Regions from separate parts of the Homo sapiens genome. Here region 2 is linked to region 1. The links come from fine-mapping of genetic effects on gene expression. A gene starts in region 1. The other region holds a variant in brackets. All regions are shown on one strand. Distances are from middle to middle.

Region 1 (2,821 bases):
AATGTATTCTTGAAAATTGCTATGAGAGCAGTTTAAGTGCTCTCACCACAAAAAATGAAAAGTACGTGAGGTGATGCATGTTCATTAGCTTGATTTAGCCATTCTACTACGTATACATATTTCAAAACAACATGTTACACATGATGAATATATAAAATTTTTATTTGTCAGTTATAAAGAAAAATTAGGCCGGGCACGGTGACTCACACCTGTAATCCCAGCACTTTGGGAGGCTGAGGTGGGCAGATCACGAGGTCAGGAGTTTGAGACCAGGATGCCCAACATGGTGAAACCCCATCTCTACTAAAAATACAAAAATTAGCCGGGCGTGGTGGTGCACGCCTGTAATTCCAGCTACTCAGGAGGCTGAGGCAGAAGAATCGCTTGAACCCAGGAGGCAGAGGTTGCAGTGAGCCAAGATCGTGCACTGCACTCCAGCCTGGGCAACTGGACGAGACCTTGTCTCAAAAAAAAAAAAAAAAAAAAATTGAGAGCAAATAATGAGCAATAAAAGAGATTATCAAGGGACGTTTAATTGCATATGATTTTTCCACACTGCAAGATGGAACTTTAGAAATTAAACCCAGCTTAAGGTACAAATGCCTTGAAAAGTTTTGCTCACCAAAGACCATGTAGTCAGGGGCCAGTGGTCAGGTCCTTCTTCTTGATGCCATCTTATATAAGTAAGTAGAGACCTGAGAAAGCAGAGCTGAAAAAGGAAAGGGGCCCTGAGAAATCAGGACTGTCTTTATGAGAAGCCTGTCTGACTACCTGGATATAACCCACACCCTCTGTAAAAATGTCAGAATGAATCTAGGAACAGATTCTTTCCCTGCAGAGTACAAAGTGAAAGGCCACTTACATTCCTCTCTCTGGTCACTGGTCCAATCTGACAAACCAGAAACAGGGCTAACTTTATCCTCCCATGATGGGTGGCACCGAGTGCACCAGCTCCCTCTTTGTTTGTTAACAATACTTGTAAAGCATATACAATTTTTCGAAGTGCATTCACAAATGCCATCTCAAAGAACAAACAATTGCTCTTCGTCGCCCGCAGAGTGTAGGGAATCAATTCCACAGTTCTTTATAGAAGAGACTTCAGAAATTTACCAGTAAAACGAAACAAGCTATCTCTAGAGAGGAGGTGAGTTTCTGAGGAAAGAGCAAGAACTGGATGTCGGGAAACCTAAATTCTAGTTGGCACTAAATACGTATATCACGGTTTTCTTGCAATTCCCAGGTCTACCTACCACCAAGGTCTGGGGTGGTTGCCCCTCCCCAGATAAACTGCCCCCCATCACAGTCAAAGCAAGGCCCAAAAGCTCTGAGCTCTGTTCTCATGACTCTCCAACCCAGAAGAGAACCCAAGCCCCTGACTGTTAAGGCTGGGATGAGCAGACACGGCTTTGCCTCCTCCTCACCCTGAAGCGGGATGCTGGCCCAGGTCACCACCACCCCTCCACTGCAACGTGAACCAAATACCCAGCCTGACCTAATCGGCTTTCCTCCGCCCCCGGGCCCGGCCAATGCATTCTCAGGCCTCTCCCGACCCGCCCGAATGGTTGTGTTTGAAGGGGACCTCTCTCCCCACCTCCCACACGAGTGCAAGGGTCGGGAAAGAAAAAGCTCACCTGCTCCACCGAAAAATAAAGAGCACGGTCGGGCGATGTGGTTCCCAAGCCAGGAAGTACGCCTGCGCACGCGGCCGCCAGGAACTACATTTCCCAGCATCTTCTGCAAAGCGCCCTCTTGAGCTGCGTCTTTCACCGGTGTCTTTCTAATGCTTTGCGGGTTGCGAACGTGCGTCGTTTCCATCGTTGTTTACATGAAAAGAAGAAAAAAGGAAAAGATTTTTTCTTTTGCTATAAACAACTGTAAATCCAAAGAGATGCAAAGTTTGCGTTAACAACACCCCAGACACAAAAGTAATACCTATTCACTACATTAATAGATGATTTATAAATAACTCTTTATTCAACAGATAAAAAACCAAACTACCCAGATGGATTCATTGCAGAAATATTTATTAACGCAGTGATTAATATTTTTTAGCATTCTAAAAGTAAATCTCTGATTTATAGCTAGCTTCTTTGTTATGAGTGTGTGTTGAGGGGACGGTGGCGGGGGGGCGGGGCGGGCAGAGACAGGGGGCAGAGAGAGAGACAGCGAGCAAGCACCAGAGAGATTCCATCCAAGAATGAGGTCATACTTTTGGGGTAGATTTTTTTCTAGCTTTTTTCTTCCTGTTAGGAACTTAGGTTATGATCCCTTCAGTGCTACCAAAAATAGTATACTGATGAACATCCTTGTAGAGTAATCTGTTCACTCCTCCACATCTGTTCTTGACAAAAACGTCCGAAAAACGAATATAATGAAGAGGGAATATGTATATCTAACTTTTTTCTTAAACAAACGAATATAGATAGATAGACAGATTGTAGATAACAGAGAATAGAGGTAAGGAAAAAGAACAAAATTAGTCAGATAAAAGTTCACTCCAAGATACTCCCTATTATATATTTAAATATGTAATTTCTATGCATATATATACAAATTCTGTATAATTAGATATTCTCAAGTATAAAACTATACATACTTTAAAAAATTGCTTTATTGAGCTATGATTGATATAACTGTACACAGTTAATATACACAACTTGATGTGTTTGGAGGTAAGTATATATACCTGTGAAACCATTAAGCCATCATGCCATCAATCCCATAAATTCATCTATCACTTCCAAAAGTTTCCACCCCTTTGGGCTTCCCCCACCTTTTGTGGTAAGAACACTTAATGTGAGATCTACCCTCTTTACTTATT
Region 2 (2,821 bases), 43 kb after region 1:
GAGTTGTCTTAATATCATTCATCTAAAGAAAACCCCCTCTTGATTTCATATCCTATACAACGTCCATTTCTCTGCTTCCTTTACCAGCAGAACTCCTCATAACTGTTGCCTATACTTGCTGTTTCCACTTCATTACCTCTCATTCTTTCAACTCACTCTAACAGGATATTATCCCCTTAACTCCAATAAAAGAGTTCTAATCAATCAAAATAACCATTGAGCTACATACTGACAAAATCAAATGATCTCTAGTCCTGCTTTTAGGACTCAAAAGCATATATGACAATTGATTACTTCTATTGTCTTGAAAGGCTTTCTTCTCTATGCTACTTTGACACCCACTTGCACAGTTTTCCTCTTACTTCAATGGGCACCCCTTATTCTCTCTGTTGTTTTTTGTCTTCTACCAGACTTTTAAATGTCAGAGTGACCCAGCCCTCTGTCCCTGGCTCTCTTCTCTTCCCTATCTGTCTTCTCTTCCTAGGTGACCCGAGCCAATCTTAAGGCTTTAAATACCATCTTTATTGTGATGCATTTCAAAAATGGTTCCCTAGCTCACCCCTTTCCTAAGTTCCAGATTCATATATATAGTGGCTACCCAATATCTCTAGGTAGATGTGCAATGAGCATTTTGACACGGCCAAAATAGAGCCACTGACATCACCCCAGATCCCATTTCCATCCACCAAATCTAGTCTTTTCCACCATAACCCTTTCCATTCAGAAAATAGAATCACCATCCATCCGGTTCTTCAGGTTAAAAGTCTAGATGTAAATCTCGATTCTTCTCTTTCCTCATACTCCATATATCAATACATTAGTAAGTTCTATTGCTTATCTCCAGATGTATTCTGAATTTGATTTCATTTTGCTGCTACAACTCTATTCTAAATCACCATAATCTCTTGTCTTTGACTATTGCAAAAAGTTCCTAACTGACCTCCCTATATCTACCTACTCTTGCCCCTCTGCAGTCCGTCTTCCATGAGGTAGCCATGGTGATCTTTTCAAGGTGTCAGTCAGAACAGATCATTCCCCTGCTTAAACTCAATGGCTTCTCACTGCATCTAGAATAAAATCCAAATCCTTACACTAGCCAATAAAATCCTACATTATCTGATACCTTCCTACCACTATGATTCACAGCTTTCTACTTTCCCTCTGACTGTGCTCCAACAGCACTAATCTTCCTTCTCTTTTTTAAGCACACCAAGTTTACTCCTACCCCAGGTCCTTTGCA[G/A]TTGATGTTTATTTCTTCCTGAAACACTCTTTCTTCAGATCTCTGCATGGCTGCCTCCTTGTGATGATTTATGCCTCAACCCAACTGTCATTTGCTAAGGAAAGCTTTCCATGACTAACCTGGCTAAAGTCATGCACTCCCTACCCTCAATCACTCTGTACCACACCATCCTCTTTTACTTACTTCAGCACTTATTAGTGTCTGGAATAATTTTATTTGTTTATATTTTATGATATCTTTCATATTTCTATAATGTAAGTCATTGAGGGAGGGATTCTGGTTTTGTTTCCTGGTGTGTCTCCAGCATTTAAAACATTCCCTGGTTTTGAGGACAAAGCAGGGACTGCAAAACAACAACACCAAACAAATAAAATAAAAAATACCCCCTGGCATAAAATAAATGCTCATCTTACAGACTGTTCCTACTGTTCCTGCAAGTTTTCAATCACTGACACCCAAATACTCCCCAATCACTAACCTTCACAAACTTCTCCCAATTATGGATCTCTGCAAGTTCCCAACTATCACTCTCCACAGAACAATCATTAACCTCCACAGATCTCCAATCACTGACCACCAAAGAACCCTCAATCATTAAATGCAGCAATCCCCTCAAACTCCTGACCCCCTTAGACTTCTAGTCACAGAATCATAGAGGATCTTCAATCATTAATTCCTACTAATCACCTCATTACTCAAAGCACAGTTATTACTGCTAGACACCACCTAATTATTGACCTGCATACATCCCCAATTACCTTTTCTCCCCAGATGACATACAAATCATCTACCATCCCCAGAGACACCTCAACATTGACTCCCCAAACTCCAACAGTCATATTCCCCCCTCACTGGCCCCCCGATTCCTCCATTACCCACTGACCCTCAAAGATACTGCTAATCAAACTTCCACAGACATCACCGTCACTGACTCCCAAGCCCCAATCTCTGATGCTCCCAGATGCTCCCAATCACTGAATTTCCCAAATCCTAACACTGACCCTCTTTGATAACCCAGGCTCTAACCACCACAGGCACCCATAATCGCTGGCTCCCATAGACATCCCAAACCGCCAACCCCCACGGTCCTTCCCTATCTCTGACACATCACAAAGCCTCCATTTCTGATCTCCTTCCAAACTCCGACACTCGGTGACTGCCACAGACGCCTCCCCATCATTGTCTCTGCAGATCCCTCCTAATACTGATATCCTAAAGCCAAATCATTAACCCCACAGATAACTCAGAACACCGACCTCCCAAAAGACCATCTAGCATCGATTCCACCAATTCCCAAATCACCTATCGTCACAGACTACTCCAATCACTGCCCCGCAAGTACACCATCTCTGACCGCCAAAACACCCTGTCTCATCACAGCTCTCACCGCGGCGCTGGCCTCGGGCTCGGACACAGCCATCTCCAGTGGTCGCCCGGCCTCTTTGGTCGTTTCCGCACTTCTCCTCCGGTCCACGGTCTCTGGCTTTGTCAGAATCTGGACGCCGCTGGAGACCGACATGGCGGCTACCCGGAGGGCGGCCTTAGCGGGTCCGGCAGCCGCGATGGCGGCGCCCTTCGGTA

What was found. PIP is the estimated chance that this variant, and not a neighbour inherited with it, causes the effect.
Region 2: its variant is fine-mapped to the expression of ZNF883 in whole blood (TOPMed, PIP 0.93).

What each region holds. Positions count from the first base shown.
Region 1 is chr9:113,010,519-113,013,339 of GRCh38, forward strand. It overlaps ZNF883 (zinc finger protein 883), which reads right to left and starts at 1,674. Exons shown (of 5, transcript NM_001101338.2): 1 at 1,632-1,674; 2 at 623-709.
Region 2 is chr9:113,053,930-113,056,750 of GRCh38, forward strand. It overlaps ZFP37 (ZFP37 zinc finger protein), which reads right to left and starts at 2,795. Exons shown (of 4, transcript NM_003408.3): 1 at 2,628-2,795. The coding sequence starts at 2,759. RefSeq lists an enhancer at 2,426-2,821. The variant G/A (reference allele first, on the strand shown) is at 1,241.